Linked DNA regions of Homo sapiens: region 2 is linked to region 1. The links come from fine-mapping of genetic effects on gene expression. A gene starts in region 1. The other region holds a variant in brackets. All regions are shown on one strand. Distances are from middle to middle.

Region 1 (11,688 bases):
GAGTATACAGGCTTCAGATGGTTTTAAAATTTTTTGGTTTGCTCATCTAGCTTTCTGCTTTTCCTATAATGACCGCAGTTCGTTTTATATATATATATATATATATATATGAAAAAAATCACTGAACTACCAACACATCATTCACCGGGGTGAGGAAATGGAGAGGCTAATGGGAAAAGCCAGGTATAAGCCAGGCAGGGGCAGAGGCCTCAGAGCAGCTCCTTACTATGTACAGAAATGGGTCTGGCCCAAGAGGCAGAAGGAGTTCAGGGAACGCTGTTCATCCAATGGCTTCTCTGTAAACAAGATCAGACACCCATTAATCCCATGGCTGCACTGCCCTTTCAACTATGAAAAGTATAGCCTTGTGGTCAGAGCCCCACCTGTGCAATCAGACTGCCAGGGTAGGACAGTGTGCTAGATCACTTACTGGGCGTATGACCCTAAACCGGTCAATTAGCCTCTCTATTCCTGTTTTCTCATCCATAAAATAGAAATCACACCACCACCTACCTCCTAGTGTGGCTATGAGGATTAAGACATGATTCACTGCAAAGGCCCAGTATACAATAAGAGCACAATAAATGTGTGACATTATTAGGTCTCTGCCATGAAACACCAGCCTCAAGTGCACTCTCAAAACCATGTGATTGGGTCCTGAAACAACCAGAAAAGGTTCTAAATAAAGCCTTTCTTTTCCCTTCTTCTATGCTGAAGACAGGACTACAGCATACTGTTTGCTTTAACACCAGTGCTCTAGGGAGCCATGGAAGAACAAGGGCAGCCCAGTAAAATATGTAACACGTCCCAAGGCCCCACACTATGGGCTAGAAATCCTGCTCCCAAAGTTACACAGGATTTCTAGTCTCTTGCCACTGCCACCGCTGCCAGCCACTGCCTTTGGCAAGAAGGTAGGTGACTCAAGTGTGAACTAGGACTTGGCAAGGGAACACCAAACCAGAAGGCCTCCAGGCAGGAAGCTCCAAAAAGGCCACCTGCTGAAACAGTTTGTCTGCAGGCAGCCTCCGAGATGAAAGTAGTGTTCTGCCATCATTAACAAATGCAGGTAAGAATAGTGGACACTTTAAACATGCAACAGAACTTACCATCCTAGCTTCATAACTCTGAAAATAAATTTCGGGTAGAGATCCAGGCTGAAGATACGACCACACACTTAAAATGACTACAGTGCCTTTAACTATATGACATAAAGAACACCCTAAAACAGTCAATATCAAATCAATTTTCAAAAAGGTTTCATGGCTATCTTTGAGTCAAATGCCTTAGATCTGTATTTAACAAAATTTTCTTTCCCAAACTTAAAATTATCTCACTTTACCAAAAAATATAAAACTCCTAATGTCCACATACAAGGAACTAATTACATTATTATATTAATGACATAGTTGAGGATGTTCTATGTTACACAGGGTAACCAGTTCCTCCCAGTTTGCCTGGAATTTTCCCGGTTTTAGCCCCATATGCTGGGACACCAGTCAATCTGCACAAACCAGGATGGTTAGTGCCCCCTAAGGCTGCAATAAAAATTATGTGTGCCCTGTGAAGAGGAAAACAGAAGGGACACTGTTACAAAAGTTACAAATGCAGAAGTGCTAAATGCCAAGTTTGTTTGTTTGTAGTGATAGCTCCCAGTTCCTTTTTTACAGTGAAAAAAAAAAAAAAAAGACTAAAAATTACACTGGTCTCTCCCTTTTTCTTTTTACTCTCCTGAAAAAAAAAGAGTTAGGAAAAAACATTTTCCTTCTCTTACAAGATTGAGAGGTCACTACAGGACTGACTGCTGAAGTAGTGTCTGCTTCACCTAGCAAGCTCCTGCACCCAGCTTTAGCTGGAGAGAAAATGTCATCATCTGTCACCCCTGACTTTTGCCACATTTAAAGACAAATCCAGACAATTTGTGTTTCAGGTTATCAACAGTAAAAAATCCAAGAGGCCTAGCAAAAATCAAGATTCACTTCACAAATAGGGCATTCAACAGATGAGGTGCCAGGCACAGTGGCTCATGCCTGTAATCCCAGCACTTTGGGAGGCTGAGGCAGGTGGACTGTTTGAGCCCAAGAGTTTGAGACCAGCCTGGGCAACATGGCGAAACTCTGTGTCTACAAAAAATACAAAAATTAGCCAGGTGTGGTGGCACACGCGCCCATAGTCCCAGCTACTGGGGAGGCTGAAGTGGGAGGATGTTTGAGCCTGGCAGGCCAAGGCTGTAGTGAGCCATGATCATACTATCGAGTCAGAGTGAGACCCTGACACACACACACACACACACAAAAAAAAAAAAGGAGGGAGAAATTAAGAAGTGGTTGTTTTACTAGAAGCTGAATGGAGAGCAAGGTACTCCTGTACAAACTCTAAGGCAGGGATTCCAAGCAGGCGGGCGGCTCCCTGCCCACAATGATGGAGCAAAACTCTTCTAGTAGTGGTCTAAGCAAATGGTTTTAAAAGTTAATCTGTGAGGTTAAGAACTGACTTCTAAGAATTGAGTCTCAAACAGAAAAGGTAAGACTATATAAGGCAAGAAAGACCACACACTTACTTCCTGGACCTAAAGCTACACAGAAACCATCGTTGTTCACCACCCCACCCCACCCAGGCCACTTCCCCACCCCATCTCCTTCTGACTTTGTCCCAAGATAGACTGGACATTTTCAGAAGTTCTTGAATCTTAAAACGCCTTAGGTTCTTTTTACGTATCTGGAGATGGAACCAAATAAACGTTGTGTGACTCTTCCTTTCTCTCCATACTCATACTAGTTTATTGGGGGAAGGAAGGAAATATACTTGGAAACATCTTAAAAGGCAACATCTTTGAAATTCCTGCTCTGATAAGCCCTGAAGAATAACTTCCTCTCTTTGTAAGACCAAGTAATACACTTCTCACTAGGGTTGATCTTGATCTAGGAAGAGATGTTTTCTTGTAACCCTTACAACACATCCAATGAGATGATGGAGCTATCCTATACCAACTGTAGCAGAAAGTACAAGCACCTGGAAGGCAGAAGACAAGAGCTAGTCCCAGTCCTGCAGGCCTATAGCTGGCATTCTTTGAGGAAGACTTGCTTCACTTCTCCAGATCTGTTTTGTCATTTAGAAAATGAAGGGTTTGGGCTAGATCATCCTTAGAGTCCTTACAACTCTAAACTTCTATGTGATGTTCTTTCTTATATGTGATAACAATACCTATTAGAACCATTCTTTGTACTTTGAAGATCTAGGGATTAACAGACAAGTACAGCAACGTGTACTAGCAAAGATGACAGGCCCAAGACACGCTAAAACTGTAGGATTTAAAATACGCAAATGTCTAACAGTTGGCAAAGTATGTGACCAAAAGGTGAAGGAAATCCTGATATCAACTTACACTTTTAAATGCTCTGGAACCAATGAGAACAAATACATTCATCACAAGTACCAGCTGCTCTTCTTACTAAATTTAACAATAACATGAATTTTAACTCAGTGATTTCCCCATCACCAACCCCGCCAAACACCTGTAAATATTTAGGAAAAACAAGCTAAAAAAATTGAATCTAAAAGGCAGGAGAACAAATCATTGCAAATCATTGTGGTGACGGACTGCACTTCAGTTGCAAGATGTTCTGGCTGGATACTAACTGGAGAACGCAAGGCAGCAGATGCAACCCATGGACAAGTTTGAGGTATTTAATACCAAGGGCTGGCAAGTCTGACCCTGTAGTCAAAGTCAAGATTGCCTCTCTGCCTACCAGGACCCCAAAACAAAGTTCCTTTCACTACCCACGAATAAACGGGGGTGGGGGTAGCAAGCCGTTTCCTTTTTTCGTGGAAAGAGCTGCAAAGAGTTTTGTCATGCAACTTGGTTTGGTGCCTGTTAGTGTCAATGTAAGAGCAGCAGAGTCCGCGAAGGTGGCTGTTACCATTCCACAGACCTGCGGCGAGGACTGTCAATCCGATTCAGCAAATAACCCCACCTCTCCAAGCCAGGACTCCAGAGCTGCCCTGTGTGGTGTCTCAGCAAGGAAAGCCAACAAAGCTGGTAGACACAGGCAGACCGTAGCCCACCGCCTGTGAGTGGAGGCTCCGAGCCGACTTCACCTCCTCCTCAGAGGGACCGGCCCGATCCGAAAGGGCGGTCTCCAGGGGTCCCCATCCCGCACCACGCACACAGCCTGGCGCAACTAAAGAGGAAGTCGGATGTCACATCCAACGGATAAATAAAGACAGCCCGGCCACACAAGAGCCGCATTCTGGGCAGGACTCCTGCTAGGTTTGGGGAGGGGTCCCAGTCTGCGATCCTTTCTCCCTCTTCGTGCAGCGTCCTCCTCCCCGGGGCCCGGGCCGGCGGCGCCCACGCAACGCGGCGCGGTGCGAGTCCCGAGAGCACCTCGAGCCCCCGGCCCCCTCCCCAGCCCCGCCGGGCCCGCGGCCGCCGCACTCCCGCACGCCGGCTGCCCAGCGCCCACGGGCCCTGCCCCAGACTCGGGCGCGCAGTTCCGACGGCCCAGGGCGGGGACGGCGCGGCGGAGGGGAGCTGCCGCCGCGGGCTCTCGGAGGCACCGGCGGCCGCACACAGTCCTCCCCTTCGCCGCGAGTAAACAGCTCGCGGGCGCGCTCCAGCCGCGCCCCCATCCCCCCGCCGGGCTCCGCGCCGCCCCGCGCCCGCGCGTCCCGCCCGCCGGCGCCGCCGCCCGCTACCTGGTCGGTGAGTTTGAGCACTGCCATTCTTCCGCTCCTTCGCGCGCACACACATGCAGGTCCCCGGCCCGCAGATGTCACGCCGGGAGCCGGGGAAGCGGAAGGGATTGCCAGGAGAAGGGAAAAAATCTGGCTCCCGAATTTGACAGCCCTCCCCCTGCTCCTCCTCCGCCGCCGCCTCCTCCCGCCGAGAGGCTGACACTGGCTAGTGGGGTTTGCAGCCGAGCCCGCCCGCCTTTCCACAGGAAGTACCGGCTGCTGCCAGCCGGGCCGCCACTGACATCACCGCGCGCTGGCTCGCTCGCCGCCCGCCGCCTGGGCCGACGCTGCCTCCTGCCGCCCGCAGCCGAGCCGCGCAGCCCGGCCCCCGGCGCTGCCCCCGCGCCCGCACCGGGCCGCCGCCTGCCTTCCGCACCTGCACGCGGCGCCCGGCCGGGCCGGCCCCGGGCCCTGGGCGGATCGCGGGCCTCCCTGACGGGTCTCACACATATGGGTGGGGAAGCCCGCGGGGACACACCCCGAGGGGGCAGGAAAGGCTCTCACTCACATGCCGTCCACTTTAACCGGGGAGATGGGGTTACGCCCCCTTCCCCTAACCCAGAATCAGGTGGTGGCAGCGCCCCGAAGATCCCAGGGACCGCAATTATGATGCTCCCTTTGTTTAATGCCAGGAGGCAGCGGACACATTGTGATTCTTTACAGGGTGTTTGCCAAACATTTATGGGTGGAGGGAACAGAAGCTCTGGCCCTTCCACCTTGTTCTCCAGCCACTTTCCAGCTAAACACACACACACATATGCACACACACATACTATTGTTAAATTCAAACACCCTGGGTTTGGTTTTTGCTGGTGGGGGTGGAGTGGAGTTCCTGGAGAAGCAAAGCAGTCCTAAATCACCGAGTTGATGGGTCTTTTGGGTGTTCCCACCAGTCCTTACTGATCTCTACAAAATCCCAAGTTACCAAGCTCTTCAACAAATAGAAGACAGCTGTCAAACACCATGGGCTACAGATACAACGGGCATATTCGTAAGCATAGTAGCTGTTGATAGTTCTGGAATTTGGAGCAAACACTTATTCATTGAACAGCTATGTACTGAGTCCCTACCTTGTCAGGCACTGGCTAGGCACGGGAATAAACGGAGAGCATAAATAAGATAACCTGCTCTCAGAAGATGCCAACATAAACCGCATAGTCTCTGCTAATGAATGTAATTACAAACTGAGATAAGGGATCTCAAGGGAAAACATGCTTCTGAAGTGAACCCACAACAAAGGAATCAGACCAGACTGGTGGGTGAGGGCAGGCTTCCCTGAGAAAGTGACAGGAGTTGAGATCTGGAGAAGGGAGAATTAAGTAAGCAAGTGGAGAGGAAGTGCTCCCAGGCAGCCCCATGTGCCCCTGGCAGGCCATAGAGCAAACCTGTAGGGCAGCATTGAACAGCTTTGAAGAGCAAACTAGAGCTACAGAATTCTTTGGTCAAGACCAAACATCTGCCTCTACTGTATATTCACAAACCAAATGTCCATTCTTCCTCCCTACTCTTAGAACCTCCCCCAAAGATTCCACATGAGACAGGAGAGAAAGGAGCATTAATATCCTCACATTTACCATCCAGCCACTCTGGTTGTCGAAGCAGCTAAATCTCAAATTTACCTTTATTAGTCTTATAGATTATAATTCAGATCATGCAGACAAGAAGAACCAAGGAACTTTGTTCCTGGCTTCCACTCCTCTGTTATCAATGTTGCATGGAAACAAACAAACAAAAAATTCTAAGGCCTTTCTCAGACATACAACAGATTGTTTATGTTGCATCTATGAGTCAGTTCTTCACTGCTGTTATTGGTATGTCTATTTACTGAACACCCTGCATGGCTTTGTAAGTAAACTGAATAGGACCCTGCATTCTCTACTTAAATAGAGCCATCTTTCAGAAGAGTGATAACAAATGACTTAATTTGGAAGATTCACTCAAGATCCAATTTGATTCATCGCGGACATGCCTGCACCTAAGTTCCTGGGGCCAAAGTGAGGAGGCAGCAGTTCTCCACCCAATCAGACCATCATCCTCTTTTTGTAACTAGTATCTTTAACACTCCCCTTACTATCCTGAAAGGTAATTTGTGGATAATATTACCTACCAATACAAATTTCAAAAAAAAAAAAACCAGCAACAATATATTGTCCTAATTGTACAATAAAGGAAAAATTAAAGGAGAGTAATTTATAATGAATATGTATTTCAGTAGGTAAGTGGTAAAACACAACTCTCTTTGTCTTCTGACAAAACAAAGCAGTAAGATGCTTCCACCTATATGGAGAGGCTTTGTGAATGAGAGAATTACAAATGCAGACAGATGTGAACATATAGTGTTAGGAATTCAAATATCAAGATTGGTGTTGTCATAGGTGACCTGACTTTGTGAAAGGTTGAACAACTCGTGGCCAAGTTCCAAATAAAATAGGGAGCAGAAGATTTGGCAAAATTTATTGATAAGACTACACTTATCAGAAGGTCTGCTTTTAATGTGTTAGCCAGTACTTTGACAGTGATTCAAACACTTTGTTTACTTCATTAAATGAGACTCAGACTCAGCAGTTGACTATATTCGGTGAGCTTGAGAAGCCAGAATGCCCCTGGTATAATGTAGAGAAAGAAATCCAAAGATTTGTGGAGATGGGAATGTTGGAATAATTTTATCATGTATAATCTGTACAGCCAACCCCTACATATTCCTGGAGAGCCAGATGATGATCTTTATACTGAAGCATTGAAAAATACAGGCCAGGCACCATGGCTTATGCCTATAATCCCAGCACTTTGGGAGGCTGAAGCAGGTGGATCACCTGAGGTCAGGAGTTCCAGACCAGCCTGGCTAACATGGTGAAACCCCGTCTCTACTAAAAATACAAAAAATTAGCCAGGCGTGGTGGCATGCACCTGTAGTTCCAGCTACTTGGGAGGCTGAGTCACGAGAGTCGCTTGAACCCAGGAGGCAGAGGTTGCACTGAGCCAATGACGCGCCATTGCACTCCAGCCTGGGCAACAAAGCAAGACTCTGTCAAAAAGAAAAAAAAAGAAAAGGAAAGAAAAATACATTCGAGAGAGAACGTCAGAAAAACTCTCTAGTAGCTGGATATGATGGTGGGAGATGCTTTCGTTGAGATGGCTCCTTGATTTTTATATTAGTGGGATCCTGCGACAGCAATGGCCAAGTGGCAGCACTTAGCTGGCAGAGACAAGGTGGACACATTTACTGTAATGGACAGCAGAGACAAAGTAGTACTTAAAGGTCTTAACCTACAGGTATATCTGGCAGTGCCCTAGGTTGTCCTAGGAATGAAATAGACGGGCAGACTTTGGAAATAGCCATTGATCTTTATAACAGACAAAACTCTACATCTGCCACCTGAAAGCTCCCTTGAGCCATCAAAATGAAATTATCTTTCATTCAGTTTCCGTACCTAAATGAGTTCACAGACACAGAGCTCCTTGATTAAAAGGGAAGCTGGTCCCCTTCAGGAGGGTCTTGCAGCATTGTCATAAATATATACTACAAATCCTCATCCAAGCCTTATCCAAAGGAACCTGATGTATTTTTCTAGGCTGAGCGAGTACTGGGAAAAAGGAAATACCCAGACATTTGAGGGATCACTGACACTGCTTCTGAATTAATGCTAATTCCTGAGGATTGCAAACACCACTGGATCCACCAATCAAAATGGGGATCTATGGTAGGTGATAAATGAAATTTTTAACTAAGTATAAATCAGTGTGGATCCAGTAGCTCTGCAGACCCAAACTATAGTTATCTCCTCAACTGTTAGTTAGAATAGACATACTCAGTAACTAACAGAATCCTAACATCATTTCTCTGACCCACAGAGTGAAGTTTATTATGGTAAGACAGGCCAAATGGAAGCCTCTGGAATTTCCTCTTGATACCAGAATAGAAAACCAACAACAATGCTCAATCCCTGGAAATATGTAGAAATTGGTACCACCAGAAAAGACGTAGAAGATACAGGAATGATAATACTGTCACATCTCCATTTAACTCACCTGTTGGGCCTATGCAAAAGATCTTAGAGAATAACTATGATTTGTTATTAAGTTGTAAACTTAATCAAATGGTAATGTCAGTTGCAGCTGCTATTCTATATATGCTGTCTTTACCGCAACAAAGCAACTCAGCCCTAGGCACCTGGTGTGCACTATTGATATGGCAAATGCTTTTTATCTATTTCAATTTTCACCAAAAGTTGTTTTCTTTTATATGGCAAGATCAACAGTACACCTTTACAGTCTTCTCTAGGGGATGTAAACACTCCCACTCTCTGGCATAATCTCATCTGCACAGGTCTTGATCACTATGTTAAAGACATCGAGCTGACTGGCCCTGATAAACAGGAAGTAACAAATATTTTAGCTGCCTTAACAACACACATGTGAGCCAGAGATTGGGTATAAACCCCAAGAAAATTCATCACCTTAGTGAAGTTTCTGGAGGTCCAGTGGTCTAGAAAACACCAGGATATTCTCCCCAACGTAAAAGACAAATTACTTCACCTTGTACCATCTACCACTAAGAAAAGAGACACAATACTTTCTGGGTATCCTTGGATTTTAGAGGCAATATGTATCACATCTGAGTGTGATGCTGTGACCCATTTATAGAGCAACCCATAAGGCTGGAATTTTTTATTAGGAATAAGGGGAGAAGAAATATCTGTAGCAGGACTTGATGACCCAGAGGAATCCAATGATACTTAAAGTGTCTGTGGCAAATAAGGATGCTATATAGAGCCTCTGGTGAGCCCTGATTAGATCTACAATGCAGAATTCCTTAGTTGTAGAGCAAGTCATGCCCTCTTCTGCAGATAACAATTTTCTATTTGAGGAATGGTCCCTAGCTTGCTAAGTGAATTTGAATGACTGGCCATGAGACAATCAAGTGACTGCAAGCTCAGCTGCCCATTATGAACTGAGTGTAATCTAATCTACCAATCCATAAGACCAGACATACACAAGAGGAATTCCTCATCAAATGGAAATGGTATGTAAGAGACTGAGCTTAAGCAGGTCCAGAAAGCACAAGTTGCCTTAGCAGGTAGCTCAGATTCCTTTGATACTTACTCCTGGTGCCTCCTTATCTTCAACTTCATGGGGAATTTCTTAAGACCAGTTAACTGATTTACAGACAGTTCTCCTAAATATACTGGCACAAGCTGGAAGTGGTCTATTCCAGCATCACAGTCTCAATAAGGAATGCCCCCGATGACAGTACTGAAGGGAAATTTTCTCAGTGCAAGAAATTTCCAGCAGCGCACCTAGGGTCTACTTTGTCTGGATTGAGAGAGACGGTCAAAGGTATAGATCTACACTCATTCACAGGCAATTATTGATGGTTTTGCTGAATGGTCAGCAACTTGGAAAGATGAGGTGGTCCGGGAAAGAGGTTTGTGGGTGCACCTTTCAGAATAGGCACAAAGTGTGAGGAATTTGTGTGCCATGTGAATGCTCACCACAGAGCATCTACTCTGAGAAGGCTTTTAGTAATTAGGTGAATGACACATTCGGTGGAGTGGGCCTCTTTCTCCACCTATTGCAGTGCTTGCTCAAAGTAGCCATGGAGTCAGGAATAAAGACTATGTTTGGGCTTCAAATCTTAGGCTTCTCTGCAGTAAGGCTGATATCTGACAACATCAGAAATCACACATTGAGAGGCACCATTTCCAAGGGAGACTAGTCAGCCATGTGGTAGCAAATTGATTATTTTGGAACCCTTCCTTCATGGAGGGAACAGTTACTTGTCTTCACTAGAGTAGACACATATTGTGGATATGAATTTGTTTTCTTTTCCTTTCTTGTTTTTTTTTTTTTTTTCAGGTAGGGTCTTGCTCTGTTGCCCAGGCTGGAGTGCAGTGGCGTGATCTCAGCTCACTGCAATCACTGCCTCCCAGATTCAAGCGATTCTCGCACCTCAGCATCCTGCATAGCTGGGATCACAGGAGTGTGCCACTACGCCCAGCTAATTTTTGTACTTTTAGTAGAGACAGGGTTTCATCATGTTGACTAGGCTGGTCTCAACCCCTGGCCTCAAGTGATCCACCCATCTCAGCCTCCCAAAGTGCTAGGATTATAGGTGTAAGCCTCCATGCCCAGCTGATATGGATTTGTGCCCAGCGAGTGTTTCTTTTCTTTTTGGAGATGGAGTCTGGCTCTGTTGCCCAGGCTGGAGTGCAGTAGCATGATCTCGGCTCATTGCAACCTCCACCTCCGGGGTTCAAGTGATTCTCCTGCCTCAGCCTCCAAAGTAGCTGGAACTACAGGCATGCGCCACCACACCTGGCTAATTTTTACATTTTTAGTAGAGATGGGGTTTCACCATGTTGACCAGGCTGGTCTCAGAACTCCTCACCTTAGGTAATCTGCCTGCTCCGCCTCCCAAAGTGCGGGAATTACAGGCATAAGCCACCATGCCCGGCCCAGAGAGTGTTTCTGACAGAACTACCATCCATGACTTATGTTGTATCTTACTCACTGTTATATAGTCTACACAATATTACTTCTTTCTGAGGAACTCATCTCATGGCAAAAGAAATGCAGCAAAGGACTCATGTAAATGGAATTTACCAGTCTTATCAATACCTCATCAGCCAGAAGCAGCTCACCTGGAAGGATGATGGAGTTCTACTGAAGACTGAGTTCCAGCACCAGCTGGGAAACACCACACTAACATAGTGAAGTTACCTCTTGGAGGACACAGAAAATGCTTTGAGTCAGGAGTCAGTACATAGTACTGCTTCCCCCAAAATACAAGGTCCAAGAATCAAGGGTGGGGCTGGGAGGGAGAAGGGAGTGGTGGTTGTAGTAGAAGTGGTTCTTTTCATCATTACACCCAATAATCCACTCATACAGTTTTTGCTTCCAGTGCCTGTTTTGCTTTGAGCTCTGCTGGTTTGGGGGTGTTGCTTCCCAAGGGAG
Region 2 (11,688 bases), 320 kb before region 1:
TGTCATTTACAGGGACATGGATGAAGCTAGAAGCCATCATTCTCAGCAAACTAACACAGGAACAGAAAATCAAACACCACATGTTCTCACTCATAAGTGGGAGTTGAACAATGGGAACACATGGACACAGGGAGGGGTATATCACACACCAGGGCCTGTTGGTGGGTTGGGGTAAGGGGAGGGAGAGCATTAGGACAAATACCTAATGCATGCGGGGCCTAAAACCTAGATGACGGGTTGATAGGTGCAGCATACCACCATGGCACATGTATACCTATGTAACAATTCTGTATGTTCTGCACATGTACCCCAGAACTTAAAATAAAAATAAAAAATAAAAAATAAAAATGACAGAAAAAAAAAATCAGACCACAGCCATTTTTCTGCTTACATTTCTCCAGTGGCTTTTGTCACATTCAGAAAAATATAGAAACTCCTCCCAGCTCACAAAATTTTATGTCTGGGCTGAGATCGCTGTTAATCTTCTGCCACCCTCCCTTTCCCTTGAGTCTCCAGCCACACTGGCCCCATTTCTGTTCCTAGAACATAACAAACTCATTCCTGCCTTTGGGTATTGGCACTAGCCTTTTCCTCTCCCTAGAATGTTCTCTCCTCTGATCTTTGCATAGCTGGTAATTTCTTGTGGTTAGGATCTGAGTTTAAATGTTAGTAATTCTTAGGAACCCCAACTATAAAAAATATAAATAAAGTTCACGAATTTGCTGGGTACTTTCAACTCAATGCAAACACAGGTAAGCTTTTTGTGCTCTAAAAGTACTGCTTCAGTATTTTTACTTTTGAAAATTATAAAATTCTTCCAGAATGTAATACACAGTACTTCATTAAATTGACATTTAAAAGCAGAAAATAGTATCCTAGAAATTGTGTCCACCAGTGCCTAGAGAACCCTGTGAGGCTGAAGTACTGTGTTGTCAGAGCTTGCCATGTGACGGTGGGCCAAGTGCCCCACCTTTGTGAGCAGGAGTTCCCCCCACTGGGAAAGTAGATACAATCACCTCTTGCTTAAGACAAGAAATATACATGTGTATGGCCACATTTTGGTTTGATAACAAAGGAATTAAAGATGCCTTGATCTGTGCAAATCTTCTCCCCTGGAAAAATACATAACCAGGGCACATGTGCTCAGCATTGCCTTCCAAAGTTCTTTCTCAACCTTGTAAGTTCTCGTTCTGAGGGCATATAAAGTATGTTTATGCAATCCCTTGTGAAAATAGATGAGGCAATATGGCTAGTGTCATAAGCAATACATTGATGAAGAAATGATTCAGAAACAAGAGAAAGGCAAATAGGTGAGCAGTGGGGTAGAGGAGCATTGACATTCTAAGTGGCGCAGTTATTCCCTGGGTTGAGTGGCACATTTGGTCTCCCTGGCGCTTGGAACTATAAATACTCTAGTAGCAGCCCTGCCCACCCCCCAGCCATTGTGCCAACTACAAATGCCCACACATTTCCAATCACTCCCTAGAGTGCCTGAGAATTAATGAATGGCACAGCCATTATCTTGGTGCTTTATATTTTACAGCAAATGTACCTTCAGGATGAAATTTGCTAAAGAGACAATTCATATAGTACTTTTACCCACAATGTTTTTATGTTAATAGCCTTTTAGCTTAATGCTTTTGTGCTTTGCAAACTAATTCTGGAACACATTAAGTGTGTTAAGTGAGGGATACTTATACAGGGATCTAAACCTACCAAATGGAATTAGCGTGAAGGAACCTTTGACAAGCAGTTTGAAGACAAAGTGCCACATCAATGTTCAAAAATATAATTACCACAGTGGAGGCCATTATCACATTTCTCTGCTTATGAGAACACAATTAAAATTAGGGATCTCTACATTTTCCTTGAAAGGGTGAGTTCAGTCAGTCAAGCAAGCAATTTCCTTAGCAATGACTGGGAAGAAGGTGTATTAGTATGATGTTACAGCCTCAAAGGACACCGTGATAGACCAGGGTGGCGAGTAGCTTCCAAAAATGGCTCCTAGTAATTGCTGTTCCTGCTGTTCACACCCTTGGGGAATCCCTTGCCCTTGAGTATAGATTGGACTTAGTAACTTGCTTCTCATGAATAGAATATGAGAAAAATGATGAAATATCACTTCTGAAATTCAGTTGCAAAAATCTGTGACTCTGTCTTGCTCTTTGTCTCCCTGGCTTTTCTCAGCCTGCTCGCCCGCAAGGCAAGCTGCCATGTTGTGAGCTTCCCTATGGGAAGGCCCATCTGGCAAGGAACGGACGGCAGCCAACAGCCATCAAGGAACTGAGGCCCTCAGTGTAACAACCCATGAGAAGAATCCTGCCAACAACCATATGAGTGAACTTAGAAATGGATCGTTCCCAGGCCAACACCATGATTACAGGCTGTGAGAGACCCTGGAACAGAAGACCCAGCTAAACTAGGGCTGACTCATAGAAACTGTGGGTTAGGAAACATTTGTTGTTTTAAGCCACTAAGTTTTGGGGTAATTTGTTACACAGCAATAGATAACTAATATACCCAGTCTACTCTAAACAACAGGAAGCACTCACTTGTGGTGTGACTCCTGTTTTACATTCTTTAAGATTGAAAAGCACCCAGATTTGTATATTTGAATAAGAAGGGAGGCAGGGCTGAGTACAAAACCTCCCTTAACATTTCTGGCAGAAAAAAACAAAACATTATATGGCAAGATGGCATCGAAGAGAGAACATCTAGAGGCAGATGTGGTATCATCAGATCACTATCTTCAAAAATTCAAGTTGTATAACTTCTCTAGGATTCAGTTTCTTCCTGAAAGAGCTGGTGATGTGACTGGGCTGGACTGTAATAACTGCTAACATTCTATACTACTTGATTTGGGGAACTCAGGCAGGCACCACCCCCAAGTCTCTTCGTCAATAGCTGGAAACTCCATCATTAGGAATTTGTTCCTTAGTGCTTCCAGAGACTGTCCCTGAAGTTACTACTCAAGATGAAAAATTTTGGATGGTGAGATAGATGGGGAAGGAAATTCTATGGATACCTTTAAGGATAGTGCAGAGATGGAGGTTCTTGTGTTGTTATAAAGTCCCTGAAGGGTAATGGTGACAATACCAAAGTTAGGCATGGTTGATTTCACAATTTTGAGGACCTAATAAGCTTCCTCTTTTTTGATGTGGACTATATAACTGATCACATTTCTCCTCTTACCTTGGCTGCAAGGAAGCTGAGAGCAAACACAAGTTCAGTCACAGATACTGTTTTAAATTTTATGGTTCCTTTATCTGTTTGTATTCTTTTTCTCTGTTCTCATTTTTCTATTTCTAGTTTATCACGTCTTTTGTCATAACCCAGCTCAAATCCTTTATGGGCCAGCCTGGGCAATATAGTGAGACCCCATCTCTACAAAAAAACAAAATTAGCTAGGCATAGTGGTGCACATCTGTAGTCCCAGCTACTCGGGAGGCTGAGGTAGGAAGATTACTTCAGCCCAGGAGGTCGAGGCTGCAGTGAGCCGAGATCTCACAACTGCCCATCAGCCTGGACAACAGAGCAGAAAAAAACAAAACAAAACAAAACAAAACAAAACCCTTTATGGAAAAAAGTTGGAAGCATAAATACATATAATAAACACAAGCATATATGTTTGAATTTTTTCTCTAATTGTGATAACACAAACATAAATCGTGAATCTGGAGATACACTTTTATCTTGATTATTTTCTAAATTTAAAGTTAATTTGGCTTGAGGGGGTGCAAAGATTTAAATTAGCATAATTTAGAAAAAGCATAAATTGGAAAAATTAAAACACAAATTCCAACAATATTTGTACCGTTTTTATTTGTAAAAATAACCATCTGAATGCATTTCCATAGTATATTACAGTTAAGTACTTCATTACGTTATTAGAGCATTCAGTAGTTGCAAAAGTATTAAACTGTGCTTGAGAAGATTCAGATTGTTTCAAAGTCATTCACTGAACTAAAAGTCATTTTCCCCATTTTTACAGTCATGACATTTACCAGAGTCATTCAACTCCAATTTACATAAGAAAACATTATAGACAAAATCCCACTGAAATCATCAAACAATATTTTATGCTGTTACAAATATGTTATGCAAAATATAACACTGGCACCAGATTTGTATCATCGTGCTTTACAAAGATATATTGCACATGCTAGAGCATAAAATATGTAGACAAAACTACCAAATAAAAGATATTTGCATTGAATTTTTAGATCACATAAGAAACGCATAGAATTACATTTTATACAAACACTCAGATTGTCACTATCTTAAAATGCTTTTCCCCTATAATACTGACCTATGGTTTATAGTTTCGTAAGACGAAAGCATTTTAGCACTGCAAAATCAAACAATTCCTATAGAAAACTTAAGCATTTTCATATTCATTTCAATGCAAGTACAAGGGGAAATAGGAAAAAAGACACTTTATACATTCAAAGAAAAGTTGAAATGAAAACTCACTGGTATCATATTGCTCTGATAACACTCAAATGAAAAAATACAAAACATTCCACAGAACATTTTCAGAATATACAAATATAAAAAGGCACTCTAACTTCATATTACAAGACAATAAAACGGATGAGTTCTTCAACCAACACAACATATAAGCACACCAAGTTGCTCAACAGTACAAAGAATAACTAGTGCAGCAAATCCATTTGATGTTCTTGTTCTAATTTAATAACAAAATGATAAACCAAGCAGTGTTTACTGCCTAAAGTACCAAAACATACTATGGTGCCCTTTTAGTAGTGATAAATAGAAATACCCTGAGCTATTTACTGTAGAATCATAGCAGATTTTAGGCAATTTGGAGATAGTAATGTATTTAGCAAAGACAGGCAGACACTGGCAAATAAGTAAGTGCAATGAAACATGATCCTTGTAGTTGTGGTTAAAATACAGTCTAAAAATAACACAAATAAAAGCACTAAGCAACTAAGACTCAGTTAAAAACACATTTTTTTTTCTTAGAAAGCTATGGTGCAAACATAATTTTATTTCTAAGAGATGTAATTAAAATACAGAAATGATAGTTTTTAAAGTCATTTCTTTAAAAAAATTTTGCCTTGGGGTATGGGAGAAAGAGAAAGAGAGGAAGAGAGAGAGAGAGAGATCAGTTGATGTAATGAACAGTTCATTGTGAGCATGATTTCATTTCGTTCCTTTGTCCTCCTTCTATGAGTAAGAGAGTGGGAAAAGTCAAAACGCAGCTCCATGGAGATAACGTCTCATGGTGAGTCACTGCTTTGCTGAAATGATTCTTGTACTCTCTGCTACACGACAGGAAAAATGTTAACGCTGCTTTGCCATTAAAGCAAGCATTTCATTTCCTGCTTGAAATGCCAACTGAGCAAGATTTCCATTCACTTCTAGAAAAAGACACCGCAGCATATTGTGCTTCTTCAACACTGAACCTCTCTTAATTTTCAGTGTTTTGGTAAAGATAAGGTCATTATTGCTCATTAGCAATTTATCTGCTTTTTAAAAATTCATCTTCTCTAAACAAACGAAAAGGACAGAAGGTGGGAAGCACAACACCAAGAATTCAAAAAAACAATGGTGGTGGTGTGGAAAATTTTCAGTGAAATCAATACCAGTTCAATAAATCCTTTGAACAAGTTCTCATTTGTGAAGAACCCAACAGGAGTTTTAATTAAATCCAGGATATTAAGAGTAAGATTAAAGTTTTATAGCTAGATGAAAAATATAATACAGTTATCTGTCTTTGATCCAGATATGATAGAACATTATTTTTGAAATATCTCACATACACTATAAAATAGCAATTTCCAGGGTGGAAATGGAACTCATTATAAAACGTCAGAGAGTACTGCTCTAATTCGACACATTTCTTTTCTGTCTCTTCCTCAAGTAGAAAATAGCACTTGAGCTGGTGATTTTTATTTCTCCTTTTGGCACATGTGCCCACACACTGCCATCATTTCTCATCAGGTTACTGAGACTATGTGAGCTTTTCAGTGTACTTAGGGTAATTTCTAGATATTTCTTTGTGCTGCCTTTGTGTATATGATCCACTACACATCTGAGTTTTCATCTCGCAGAAGGGCATCCAGACTGCAATGTCTTCTAAGCTCTAAGCTGGCTACAGACTGTGGCTGAGCAGTAGAAGATGCGTAGCCCTCTCTAACCAACGCGGAAGAACCTGAGGGTCATCTGGAAACCTTAGCAGTGGAAATGCTAGGTTTGGCCCTTGGGCTTTTGGCTAGCCCAGGGTCAAGTGTTTTTTTTTTCACTTTTTTTTTGTTATTCTAAATAAGATACATAGCAATTAAAATAGAGAACAAATAATGGATGTTTCCTCACCATTTGTTTCATTTCAAATAAATATAAACACATTTACAGCAAAAGTATATGGACATTTTCTCTAGTTTGGCAAAAAAAAAAAAAAAGGTCAGCACATCATCAGTTACAAATGTTAAGTGGTCAACTAGAAATCTGTGTCCTAAGAAATATAAAATACAACAAAGACTGGTACACAGAAAGATTACATTTAACTCCATAAAAAAGCTACTTCAGTTCTCACTTGCATTTTGAAGGAAAAAAATGTGTATCTTCCATTTTAGACTGAAGCATTTTGGTCCTCATGTGTAGCTGGCTGATGAAC[T/TAC]ACACACACACACACATATATATATATATACACACGCACACATATATGTGTGCATGTGTATGTGCATAATTTTTAAAGAGTCTCATTCTTCTTTTTGTACAGCGGTTCCAGGTGTGGAACGGGGTCCATTTGACCTAGAAGCTTTGGCAGAGGGAGCAGACACAGTATTCACTATGTTGATTTCATCATCAAGCAACTGGCAATCGGTTTTACATGCTAAATCACCCATTTCTACTTTCTGCTTTCACTTTTTTTGTTCCTTTTTGCAGTCACACTTTTCACTGACTTGGTATGACCTTGACTGAGAAGCTCATTTTACTACTGATGAACAATGCTGATGATTCTGATGTTTTTTAAAAGTTAGTATTTTGATTTAAGAATAAATTAACAAAGGGTAGTTTCATACTATTTTTGCATATTGTGTCAAAGTTTTGGTGCAATATAATTTTCACCTGAAATGTTATTAGATAAATTTGGGTTCAATCACTTAAGTGAAAATTAGTCACAGGCTTGTTATAGGGAACACTGTGTTAAACAAAAAAAGCAAGTTCAATTTTTCAATTCATCTGGCAACTTTAACAGAGATCCTCAGAAAGAAGTTCTGGATATTCAAATGCTTACTATAGAGAGGATATAAATAGTTGGACTCTCTAAAAAGATTATTACAGGCATTATTTCTGAAGATGGACACCTTTACCTTTGGCTTCTAGTGAGGAAGTAAACATCAAAGTGAGAAGAAGTTTGAGGCATTTCCTATCTGCCTCTTCCCTTCCCTCCCAGGGGACATGAATGTCACACTGATATACTTCTGAGAACTCACTGCTAAATACATGAAAAGAAAAATTATTCATAGCGAACAGCTGCCTCTCTGCTGCATTATCCCCAAAGAACAGGAATTAAATACATCTTTTATTCTTTATTTAAAATGAGAGGTAGACTTTCACAGAAGTATCTTAGATTTAAAGAAAATGTGAAACAAAACAAAACTGGGGCCATCTGTGTGACTGTTCCACCCAACAGCCTCACTGCCCTCCCTCGATTAATTCCTTCTCTACTAGCTTCTGGAAGCCCAGGCCCCAAATAATACTTGAATACAACATAAACCTGGAATTCAAGCTTCTTTCCTTTCCTCCAACACAGGTGATCAAAGAAAAGCTTCTACAGTCCAAAGTCAAAACGTTTCCGAATCAGAATCATTTTCATTGTACCCATCCTCCGAGCCTACGTTGTTACTGCACAGGCTAACCATGCTACCCAGATTGGAGAGGGTCGTCCTGCTCAAATTGTCTTTTTTTAAACAAACGAAGTTGACAGCCATCATTGTACTGGAAGGAGAAAAAGGCATCATGGTAGCCAAAATGAGGGCCAGGCAGTCAGCCACGTCTTTGTTAGGAGCGCAAGCCAGGGCCGGGGTATGACCTGGGCGTAAATGCAGACAAGGCAGTGGTTAGTCCTGGGGAGCCTAGAGGAGGCACGAGCATTCCACAGTACATCTCGGATGATCTCACAGGCGGAGATGTATGTTGAGTTAGAAATCATGCCAGGTAAAACGAGGAGTTACTTCTCACAAGTCATGCTAGGGGTGAGGCTAGAGGGGGAGGGAGGGGGAGACATTTTATGGAGGGCTTTTTATTTTTGTTTTCAGCTCATATGACTATGACAAGCACAATATCATCCAAAGTTAGGCAGGATTCCAGCCTTCATTTAGTGAACACAAACACAAGGGGGTGGGTGTGGGACACAATTCCACAATAAACAGCAACAGGACAATCAGGAGGATGTTTCCGCCTGAGAGCACACACACACCATGAGCCTCAGGCCTGGGCCTGAGAAGGACTCTCATTCTGAGAACAATGACTTTCCATTGTTAGGTAATTGTGTGTCCAATTAGAAAAGATATTGAAAATTAGATGACTGCAAAAGTGAGTAATGAAGTTTTGTCACTTTATATATGCTTCATAGAAAATAGACACCAATAACTGGTTTTAGAAAAATGGAATCATTTCAGTAGATCAGAGACAGGAAAGCACAGGTTGTTTGTGATTAAAAATGTACAATCATTTAGGAGAAATTTAACAAATTTTTTTTTTGACAGAGTTTCACTCTGTCACCCAGGCTGGATTGTAGTGGCATGGGGCCTTGATTTTACTACAGCCTTGTCTTCCGGGCTCAAGCAATCCTCCCACCTCAGCCTCCCGAGTAGCTGGGACTATAGGTGTGTGCCACTACTACCGGCTGATTTTTTCTTTTTTTGGTTTTTTTTTTTTGAGTCAAGGTCTTGCTATGTTTCCCAGGCTGTTCTCAAACTCCTGGGCTCAAGCGATCCTCCCACCTTGGCTTCCCAAAGTCCTGGGATTAAAGGCGTGAGCCATCACACCTGGCCTAACAGAATATTTAAAAATGGCCACTCACCAATCAAAGTCTCAAATCTAAAATGTAATGGATGTGAGAAAATTACTATGCTTGTCATAATTAGAACCATGTTATTCTCATTTAGACTCAATGGATCCAATCCAGATAAGAAAACTGTCTTAACTCATAATATAGGTTCCTTGGGGAGGTAGATTAAGTCTTTGACTTGATTATTTCCTTATCCAACCTTTATCCTACTGGCCTGAAAAGGGTTAGCTGCCTTCTCAGCTGGCCAAAGTTTCCACTACACAGTGAGTAGGGCACTTGCTCAGTAATTCAGAGGAATGGCTCAATGAAACTTAACGTTTTGTTGTTTTGTTTATCATCACTCGACCTGCTCTCCCCACCCTGCCCTTTAGGACATCATTCCTTTTTCTGGTATGAAAACAAATAAGAATGAACAGGTAGTTTAACATTCCATTTCACGAAAGTCAGTGATGAGTAAAGGAATTATGGTTGTACTGCTATATAAAATTGCCCCAAACGTTCCCAGGCCTTTGGGATGCAGGTGCGCACCAACCCAGGGCTCTTGTTCCTAAGGTCACTATCAGCTGAACAAACCTTCAATGCAGCAGATTTACACCAGGAAAAGCAAAACTAATTTATTCTATTCTCTTTGACCATTTTGGAGAAAAACTGTGGGCCTCTGCAGGCCAACCCTAAGTCTACAGTAGTGTTAAGAGGGTGAGGGAAGGTGAGGCGGGAAAACCAAGGAAATGGAGTAATAGGGAACTTTCTGCACTTCCTAGATGAGTCAGGTGGGGGACACAGCAGGGTACATGCTAGGATACATGGGGCTGCAAAATCAAAACTAATAAGAGTTAGCTAATGATAATCAGTATGGCTGCTTACTTCTGAGAAATAGGCATGAGCTGCTAATTCCAATACCTGTAATAAGCAGTTAATTGAGTTACATTAATACATTATAATACTTTAATTAAATGCCACATTTTAAAAATTACATAATTCATAAACATCCAGAAGTTCCTTTTTTGCTCCCCAAGGTTAATAGGCATTGTGCTTAAAATGGCAGTTTAGTACAATTCTAGTAGCCATTCCTTTCAAAATTTCTTAGGAAGCAGAGTAGAAAGCTTCTGTTAAGAATTAGTTCATTAGGAAAGGAACATTAATACAGATCAGGGGAAGCTTCAAGCCTAGACGTTAATTAAGAAATTTTACTCTTGTTCCTCACATTTCCATACTGGGAATATGAGTTCTGATCTGTACTTAAAGAAAAAAAAAGTTTGATCTCAGAATGAACTTAAATACAATCAAAGATCCAGGTTTTTATTTGAGCCCTTGAGCATGCATTAATGACATGTGTAGTCCCTAACTCTTCAGCATTTGCAGTTAAAATTTTGAGTGTCAACTTGAAACTCTTAGTGTGTCTAAGATATTTTAACCACTGTGCTGAGGAGTTAGAGACCAGCTGCTGGCATTACATGCAAAATGGACAGCACTGGGTGGCCTACAGGTAGACTATGTGATTTACAAAAAGACAGACAGGACAAGTTATCCTTGCTTGATTTCTCACACACAGGACTTCCAAGGGGGACAGAATTCTTAAGTGCCTTTTATACTAGCTCCTATCTTTCTCATTTCCTCTGGCTTCAACTAGCTTATGGAAGGTACCTGCAGTCGCTGTTGACTTTTTCCACTTACCATTTTCATCTACAGCAAGTACACAGGCCCCTTTGGCCAGCAACTCCTCAACTACCACCTTTAAGCCATTGCGCGCAGCGACGTGGAGGGGTCTAAAAAACACAAGACCGAGCATCAGTTGTGATACATATTTGGGTGAGAATGTGGAATTTTTGTTAGCCCATGTCACTAAAAGGAAGAAGTACTTAGACTCTACAAATAGTACATGGATGTTTTTACTTAAGAAAAAAAAATGCTGACCAGATCTTTTCCAGGTGCTAATGGTCCAACTGTTGTTGTATGTTTGGCCCAGATCTTGCTGCAGATATTACAAATATTCTGCATCTCAAACAATCTCAATGACAGTAAATACGAAGACAGAGGAAGAACTCAAGCTTTGTTGTGTTTTGCAGAAGGCCCTTTACTGCTTGATTTCTAACACAGCATTTGAATCACTGTTTCACACAGTTCAACAATATGACTGGCATTAATATCAGTCATATATATGTATAATTTCAAACTTCCTTGTTACTACTAAATGCACACAGATGTTTTACTGAATTTATAATACCTTAAAGAATTATGTCAAACTCAGTATATTGTGCTATATACTGCTTAAGAATCTTTTTCTTTTTTTTTGAGACAGGGTCTCACTCTGTCACCCAGGCTGGAGTGCAGTGGCACGATCACAGCTCACTGCAGCCTTGACCTTCTGCTGGGCTCAAGTGATTCTCCTGCCTCAGTCTCCTGTGTAGCTGGGACTACAGGTGCAAACCACTGTGGCTGGCTAATTTTTTTATTTTTTGTAGAGAAGGGGTTTCATCATGTTGGCCAGGCTGGTCTCAAACTCCCGGGCTCAAGTGATCTACTTGCCTCAGCCTCCCAAAGTGCCGGGATTATAGGCATGAGCCACGACACCCAGCCAACAGTCTTCTTCTTCTTCTTCTTCTTTTCTTTTTTTTTTGTGGGGGGACAGTCTCGCTCTTGTTGCC

What was found.
Region 2: its variant is fine-mapped to the expression of ANKRD44 in whole blood (INTERVAL, PIP above 0.99).

Annotation. Positions count from the first base shown.
Region 1 is chr2:197,305,883-197,317,570 of GRCh38, forward strand. It overlaps ANKRD44 (ankyrin repeat domain 44), which reads right to left and starts at 4,898. Exons shown (of 28, transcript NM_001195144.2): 1 at 4,696-4,898. The coding sequence starts at 4,722. ANKRD44-DT (ANKRD44 divergent transcript) reads left to right here and starts at 5,184. Exons shown (of 4, transcript XR_923750.3): 1 at 5,184-6,816; 2 at 8,307-8,435; 3 at 8,587-8,602. RefSeq lists enhancers at 1,508-1,557, 1,598-1,677, 2,258-2,307, 3,238-3,297, 3,749-4,250 and silencers at 4,374-4,753, 4,804-5,123, 5,134-5,213.
Region 2 is chr2:196,982,866-196,994,553 of GRCh38, forward strand. It overlaps ANKRD44 (ankyrin repeat domain 44), which reads right to left. Exons shown (of 28, transcript NM_001195144.2): 27 at 10,718-10,809; 28 at 3,797-6,784. The coding sequence ends at 6,726. Among named protein-coding and RNA genes, the nearest start is that of PGAP1, 62 kb to the left of the region's middle. The variant T/TAC (reference allele first, on the strand shown) is at 6,644.